2 linked regions of the Homo sapiens genome follow. The protein of the gene in region 1 purifies or fractionates together with the protein of each later gene. This does not show direct contact. Each region holds a gene or a part of one and is shown in the gene's direction. Other genes may lie near its edges.

Region 1 (3,809 bases):
CAAGAGAACATCCTTCAGGGATTTTCAACCTCACATAAAGAAGGGGTTAATCAACCTGCAGCAGTTGTGATGGAAGACAGCAGTCCGCATGAAGCCTTGAGGTGTCGAGTCATCAAATCCAGTGGCAGAGAGAAGCCAGACTCAGATGATGACTTGGACATAGCATCTCTTGTTACTGCCAAGTTGGTAAATACAACCATCACTCCAGAGCCAGAGCCCAAACCACAGCCTAACTCTAGAGAAAAGGCTAAAACCCGAGGGGCACCTAGAACCTCCCTATTTGAGAATGATAAAGATGCTGGAATGGAGAATGAATCTGTGAAATCTGTCAGAGCCTCCACCAATACCATGGAGCTCCCAGATACCAATGGTGCTGGGGTAAAAAGCCAAAGGCCCTTTAGCCCCAGAGAGGCGTTGCGGTCTAGAGCCATCATCAAACCTGTTATTGTTGATAAGGATGTGAAAAAAATCATGGGAGGATCTGGAACAGAGACTACGTTGGAGAAACAGAAACCCGTCTCCAAACCAGGGCCAAACAAAGTGACAAGTAGCATTACTATATATCCATCTGACAGCAGCAGCCCCAGAGCTGCTCCGGGTGAGGCCCTGAGGGAGAGGCACACATCCACTAGCAATATCCAGGTGGGGCTGGCAGAGCTCACATCAGTTAGCAACCATGTCAGCTCCCCTTTTGAGCTCTCCATTCACAAACATGACATCACCCTGCAGCTTGCAGAAGCGGAGAGAATGGCAGATGGGCCCCTGAAGGACAGGCCAGAAACAGTGGTCTCTCGGAGCAGCATTATAATCAAGCCATCGGATCCTGTGGAGAGGAATAGCCATGCACCTCCAGCGGAGACAATCAGGTGGAAAAGCCATAGTGCCCCTTCAGAAGTGGGCTTCTCAGATGCCAGACATGTTACTGTGCGGAATGCCTGGAAGAGTAGGCGAGACTTGAAATCTTTAGAAGACCCCCCAACTCGAATAGGTAAAAACGTGGAATCTACCAATAGCAATGCCTACACCCAGAGGTCTTCCACAGACTTCTCAGAACTCGAACAGCCCAGGTCCTGCCTTTTTGAGCAGGGCACTCGAAGGGTAGGACCAAGTTCAGGGGATGCCCCTGAGCCCTCCTCCAGAAGGACCCAAAGTAGCCTCACTGTGTCAGAGGTGCTTACCCGTCGGAATCGGGTAGGAGACACCATCACTGTCGCAGCCTGGAACCACTCAGCAAGCATGGTGAGTTCCAGCCTCTCTCCCCTCTCTCTTTTCTCCCTCCCTTTTCCTTCTTTGCCTTTTCCTTTTTCCCCTCTGCTCTGGCCTGTGTGACCCAGGATCTTGAGAACTGAGTAGAACTGGGTTCCTTAGAGAACTGTTGAAAAATCAGGGGGGTTTGACCTTTCTCCTAAAGAAGGTTTTTGGCAGCATCACTTTCCAAAATCCCTTTTCCAATTTGTTGTCTTCATTTTGCTCTCGTATATGAAGGTGACATAAAAAGGAAATCTGTCTTCTCTTCCCTTGGTTTGCCAGAGCAGCTAAAGGAGCTCCCCGTAGGCCCTCAGAACAGCATGAAAAGCACAAGAAGCAGCTGCAGCTGATGGGGAGCTCTGGGCAACAGGAGGAGGCCCGGTGCCCTTTCTGTAGGGCACAGTGAGGGGGAGCCAGGTCAGCAAGTTCTCGGCCGCCTCAGTTAGCAGATCTTCACAGGCTGCTGGCCTCTCAGGGATGAGGAGAGCCGGGGCTTACACTGGGCCTATTTTAGATAAGCGTATACCCAATTCCAAGTGACACTTTCTTTTGCCCCCCAGACAGCTGTCTGTCTCATATTATCAGTCTGAGGGCAGGGCTGGTTCAGTATAGCTCATTACAGCTTTGATAAATCCAGAACCACCTGCCTTATGTGAGTGTGAGGCTCAGGGTGTCAGAACAGCATCTGGAGAAGCCCCTGGGAGTGTCTTTTTGATGAGAAACCTGTGATGATGAAAAACTTCTTGGACCTGGACACAGTGCTCCCTTCTTTAAAAAAGCAGATGACTCTGTTAACTTGAAAAGCCCTGTGACTCTTTACAGGGTACTTAACACTGGACAAAAGTACTTCACTACCCACTATCTTATTCAGTCCCTTGAATATCTGCCTGGGGGCAGATATTATCCCCATTTTTCAGATGTAGAAGCTAAGGGTCAGAAACACAAAATATCTTACCTAAGGTCACCCAGCAGAATTACTGGAAGAGCGAAGACTTGAATCCAAGATTCCTGTCTCTAAATCCAATGCTCTTTCTACTCTAACCTTTCTTACTCATGCCTATGTTATTCTTTGATCTGCATTTGCTTGGGAGAACCAAGGAGAATATTAAAAAGGTAGAATTCTGGCCAGGCGTGGTGGCTCACACCTGTAATCCCAGCACTTTGGGAGGCCAAGGCAGGCGGATCACAAGGTCAGGAGTTCAAGACCAGCCTGGACAATATAGTGAAACCCCGTCTCTACTAAAAATACAAAATTAGCTGGGTGTGGTGGCACATGCCTGTAATCGCAGCTACTCAGGAGGCTGAGGCAGGAGAATCACTTGAACCCAGGAGGCGGAGGTTGCAGTGAGCCGAGATCGCACCATTGTACTCCAGCCTGGGCAACAAGAGTGAAATGACGTCTCAAAAAAAGAAAAAAAAAAAAAGCCAGGTGTGGTGGTGCGTGCTTGTAATCCCAGCTACTTGGGAGGCTGAGGCAGGAGAATCGCTTGAACCCAGGAGACGGAGGTTGCAGTGAGCTGAGACTGCGCCACTGCACTCCAGCCCGGGAGACAGTGCGAGACTTCGTCTCAAAAAAAAAGGTAGAATTCTAGGCGTAGGGAGAAAGACAGCTATTTGGGCCCCTGAAGCTTTGGACATTTAAGAGGAGAGATAAAGGATGAGAGACGGGAATGTGAGCTTTTTGGTAGTTTGTATGTGGGAAGGAGGAAGAGAGCTGTCCGGACCTCTCTTCAGCTCCCCATCAAGGATGTGGACCTCATCCCCAGAATCATGCGGCCTGCATGCATGTGCAGAACTCGGAGACTGCTGGCCCCTCCTCAGGGGTGCTAGTCCCATGCCCCCATTCCAGGCTCTATCCTCTGTAAGGCTCCTGTTGAGTTGTGAGCCTCCTCCTAGCCTACCCTGATTGTTCCCAGCAGCTTGGAGTTCCCAGTCTGCCGATTTCCAAGGAATTTACATATTGGCCCATACTCAGGCAAAAGCATATCTTTGCAGTTAACTTATGGCCTGTCTGGGCTATATCTGCCTCTGCTGGGTTGGAAAGGACCCACTATGGTAGCAGGTGAGGGTGTCTCGGTCCTCACTTTACTGACCTCCACAGCTCACTTTTGTTATTTATTGGCACAGGAGGAAGAAGGGGAAGACTGTACACTCAGTGTCTACAGGCAACTGCACAACTCCCTGGATCCGTCTGAACTGCCTGGGAAGCAGGGGCTGCCAGAGTCTGGGCGAGTACGGGCCGAGGAACGATTACGGCCAACCAGGCCCTGTGCTGAGGAGAACTGAGCCCGCTGGGTGTCTGTTGTCTGCCCTCTGCTCCTGCTTCTCAGCTCTTCCACCGTCCTGCCCCACGAAGGATCCAAGGCCAGTTAACCAGGCAAGACACAAGCCTTGGCTGGAAAACTGTGGTAGAGCCGGGCTGTGGCTCAGGTAATTTTTGCCATTTGGCCAGAGGGAATCAGAGACTACAAGCTGGACAGTCACCCAGGCCCAACCTTCCCCAATGCACGAGTCCTCTCTCTCTCCTTGTCCCTGTCCACCAAGTAGTTGGACCATTCTGG
Region 2 (4,387 bases), on another chromosome or scaffold:
AAGTCAATGCGCAGCCTCCTGTAATTATCCTTATCGGAAGCCCCTTGTTTAATCTGCATGTTTAGCGGAGGCCCCACTCGAACGCGCAGCGAGTGGGAGACCCACTTTGCAGGGCCCAGGCTCGGGCTCCGGTCCCTGCGTGCGCGCAGGCAGCCGCGCCGGGTTCCCGCGGAGCTCAGGCGTTTGCTCCTCCCTCGCTGCGGGACCTCGGACTGTAGGACCCTCAGGGAGTGGGACTGAGGAGATCTGCTTCCGGGGTTCTGGGATTGGGAAGCGGGGGACGCAGGGCTCCGAGCGATGAGGGCTGGTTGGGTTCAAAGCGCGAACCAGTAGTTACTTACCCACGTGCTTGGGGCCAACTTTAGCGAATATCAGAGTTTCACTGATTATTCAAAGAATCAGGCTTTCTTTGAATAATCGTGAAATTGGACAATAAATTGTAAGCCCCGATGAAAAGGTGTGCTTTCCAGTAGACAGACTCTATTTTATTTCAATTTACCTCCCTCCACTCCTCCCCAATTTAGGGTTGCTGGATAAAATACTGATACATACTCCTACAAAAAAAAAAAGCCCTCCTTTTTTATCTGAAATCACATTTCACTGAGCCGACAGTGTTTTGTTGGTTAAACCTGGTACCCTGCCCGTCTCAGCCCCGGGCAGTCCACTCCTCTCTCTGCTTCTCTCCCTTTCCCCAGCTCTTGTGAGTCTGCCACCCCCTACAGTTCAGCCCGTGGAGTGTTGGGGATGGACCTGGGGGTGGATTTGGATGGAGGTAGAATGACCATGGATTAAAGGGATGGAGGTAGGATGACCATGGATTAAATACACGGTTTTCATTCCTTTCCCCTTGGGGATTTTCAGAGAAGGCCTTCTTACAGGAAGGCCTTCGTGGCACCGGCGGCGGAGGTGGAGGGCTGGCTGGGGACATATATGGGGTAGCCATCGGGGTGTGGTTGGGAATGGGGTCCTAGGTCTTAATAGGCAGTTGGGTCGCATCAAAGAAGCTTCAGGGCAGCTGGGAGTGGGGCCTCCACCCAGAGAGTCTGGAAGGAAGGAGAAGGCCACGCCAGGATGTAGAACTTGCGACTTTTCGAGGGACAGGCAGACAGCGGAGTCACTGTCCCTTACCTTCTTTCCTCCCCTCCCTCCTAGAATGGGGGTGGGGTGGGGTGGGGTGGGCTGGACAGAAGAGAGGAGGAGAAGGAGGTGACTGAGGGGACTGCAGCTGGGTGGGCGGTAACCGAGGGGAGGGGAACTGGTGGCGTCCCCATCTCGCGGGGTCCGGAACGGCGACGCGCCCGCGCCCAGCTGATTGGAGCCCTTCAGGCCTCCCGCGCCCGACCGGCAGCCCAATCCTATAAAGCTTCCTCTAAGCTGGGCCCTCCGCAAACGGGATCCAGAGAGGCTCGCGCCTTGCTTGCTAAGGAACCATGACCGGCCGGGACTCGCTTTCCGACGGGCGCACTAGCAGCAGGGCGCTGGTGCCTGGCGGTTCCCCTAGGGGCTCGCGCCCCCGGGGCTTCGCCATCACGGACCTGCTGGGCTTGGAGGCCGAGCTGCCGGCGCCCGCTGGCCCAGGACAGGGATCTGGCTGCGAGGGTCCGGCAGTCGCGCCGTGCCCGGGCCCGGGGCTTGACGGCTCCAGCCTGGCGCGTGGGGCCCTACCGCTGGGACTCGGCCTCCTCTGTGGCTTCGGCACGCAGCCGCCGGCGGCCGCTCGAGCACCCTGCCTGCTCCTAGCGGACGTGCCGTTCCTGCCGCCCAGGGGCCCCGAGCCCGCTGCCCCGCTGGCTCCCAGCCGTCCGCCGCCTGCGCTCGGCCGCCAGAAGCGCAGCGACAGCGTCTCCACGTCCGGTAATCAGGCCCGCGCTTTCCGCTCCTGCCCCTGTCCCCTAGGCTCTGAGCCGCGCAGGGGTCACAGACCATCGCCCCACCGCACCCCTGGCCCCAGCGGCCCAGATCTAGGCGGGGAGCCCAGAGCGAGGCCCCGTCGCGGGAGGGGCATTCGCGGAGCTGCGCCGCCTGCCCCTTGCTGCATCCTAAATCCCTGCCTCTCATCCGGGGTCCTGTTCCCTCAGCGATGTGAGACCGCCACCACCTGGTTCCGGGTGGAACCTTTTGATGAGACCCTGGGGTCTTCAACAACCATCTCCAGAGGGCCATTTTTCCCCCCAGCGCCAGGCGCCAGTCTCCGCCTCTGGCAGCTGCGTGGGTCGGGAAGGCCCGGGCCTGTGGTGGTCACCAGCAGCACCGAACAAGGTACCAGGTGGAAACGCGGGCGGAAATGATCGAATGATTGACGGGTCCTGGAAGAGTACGGGGCCTCGAGCCCTGGAACTGTCCGCCCCTTGGGGTGCTGAAAAGGGAGTCCCGGGTACCGCGCTCCTCTGCCGGCGCAGCGTCCTCCCAGTCCCCTGTGCAGGAGAAAGAAGCAACCTTGGGGATTCATTGTAGTTACGCCTAGAGATGTGTTCCTGGCCTACCCATTTCCCCAAAGAAATCCAGACGGGTCGCGGGGAAAGAGAAGGAAGCAATGAAATTCTATAAAGGACAAGGGCTAAGGAAACGAGTGGTTTTGGGTGTGGGAGAGAAAAGAAAGAATTACACAAGAAAGGATGGTATGTGGTAGAATCTAGAGCTGAGCATCCAGGCAGCCAAGGCAAAAAGAGTAGACTGGGTCTTCTGATACTAAAAGGAAGCATGTCAGATCAATAGGCAGGCAGGTTTTTGCTCCACTCTAAAAGGACTTTATTTCATGAGCTCTACGTAAGATAAAATGAAACTCCCTATTAGTGTCACTAAAAATGCAAAACTGTTTTCATGGGATGGGTTCTTTCTTACAAAACCAAAGGCAGCTAAATCCAACTCTGCCAGCATTTCTGAAAGTCTGGAGCAGAGCTGTCCAAGAAAAATGAAATGTGATTTCATGTTTGACGGAAATTTCTCACAGTCACATTAAAAGTGAAATGAATCTAAATACTATATTTTAACCCAACAATGATAGCAAATATTATCATTTTACACATAATCAATACAAAAATATTTTACTTTTTAGGAGCACTAAGTCTTCTAACTCCATTAAGTGATTTATGTTTACAGCATGTCTTGATCTTACTGGCCACATTTCATGTGCTTAATAACCTTATGTGTCTCATGTCTCATCAGGTTGGACAGCCCAATACAGAATGTTTTAATCCAAGCCAGGTTTCTGGTGAACTAATTGATGGATGAGTAAAACTAGTATTATTTAGTTATTTTTGCCTTTATTCATTTTAAAGATATTTTGAGGCAATTATGCCTTCTAGCAATGAATCTCACAATAGTTTGGCCTTCTAACCTTCTTTTCCATCTAGACTTTTTGATGTATTGGATATAAAAAGGTAAAGCACAGTGGAGTGGTTCTCAAATTTTCAAGGGCAACTACACATCATCTGAGCACACTTGTCAAGAATGAGCCTCCTAGATCCCACCTCCAGAGATTCTGATTTGGTGCATCAGGGAAGGGTTGCAGTTCTGACGAGGGTTCTGATGTCACAAGCCCCAGACTTCCTTTGGGAAATGTTGGTGTAGAGGTTAAGATGATGAGGCTGGGGGCATAGGGGTGGATGTGTTTGGAAGCAGTGTGGGGATAGAAAGTGCAATCAGTGGCTGAGTAGTTTTGGCTTCAGATAATCTGGGATTTGAATTCTCAACTTCACCATTTACTACCTGTGTGATTTTGGGCAAATTACTTAACCATTCGGTGCCTCAGTTTCCTCATCTGTAAAAATAGGATGATAATAATAGCAGCAGCCATTTTGGTGTTTTATTATTATATTAAGAATACTTGAGATAATGTATGGACAGTGTTAAGCACAGAGCCTGGGATCTAGTAGGCACTAAAAATGCTGGCTCATACTGTAAACTACTTAAGTACCCAAGAGGTTCATAACTTCAATCCTCACATTAAAATCCAGGAAATAGAGGGGATATGATCACCCTTAAAGTCCTCTTCTTCTTTCTGTGCCATCAGATGAGGACAGCCAGTCTGAAGACAGGAATGACCTAAAGGCATCCCCCACCTTGGGCAAGAGGAAGAAGCGGCGGCACAGGTATAGGGCCAGGCAGTCCCCTCTGCCTGCCTTTCCTCGGGACACAGCCCAAGGTTTATGGCACCTGCATCTGAGAATTTATGGCCCGGCATGATAGCAGGCCCAGTGGTTTCCTGGTTGGCAATGGGAAGGGCACAGAAGCCATTTGGGAAGATAATTCTGCAGTTCCTAGGAGGCTGGGAAAATGCTACAATCTTGCTAGCATTTTTTTGGGAGCATTTTAAAGACAATTTTGTGGATCTGTCAAATGGATTTTGTCAGAATGAGCTGATGGAATTCATTAAGAAAGAGCTAAA

What was found.
Region 2: the proteins of LUZP1 (region 1) and VSX1 purify together in Homo sapiens (co-immunoprecipitation; one large-scale study listed by IntAct). This does not show direct contact.

The regions. Positions count from the first base shown.
Region 1 is NC_000001.11:23,088,620-23,092,428, reverse strand, and holds part of LUZP1 (leucine zipper protein 1), read left to right. Parts: coding exon 1-1,239; intron 1,240-3,375; coding exon 3,376-3,534; 3' UTR 3,535-3,809.
Region 2 is NC_000020.11:25,079,140-25,083,526, reverse strand, and holds the start of VSX1 (visual system homeobox 1), read left to right. Parts: upstream 1-1,385; 5' UTR 1,386-1,430; coding exon 1,431-1,854; intron 1,855-2,195; exon of another isoform or gene 2,196-2,259; intron 2,260-4,012; coding exon 4,013-4,091; intron 4,092-4,387. UniProt on the Homo sapiens protein: Binds to the 37-bp core of the locus control region (LCR) of the red/green visual pigment gene cluster. May regulate the activity of the LCR and the cone opsin genes at earlier stages of development. Dispensable in early retinal development.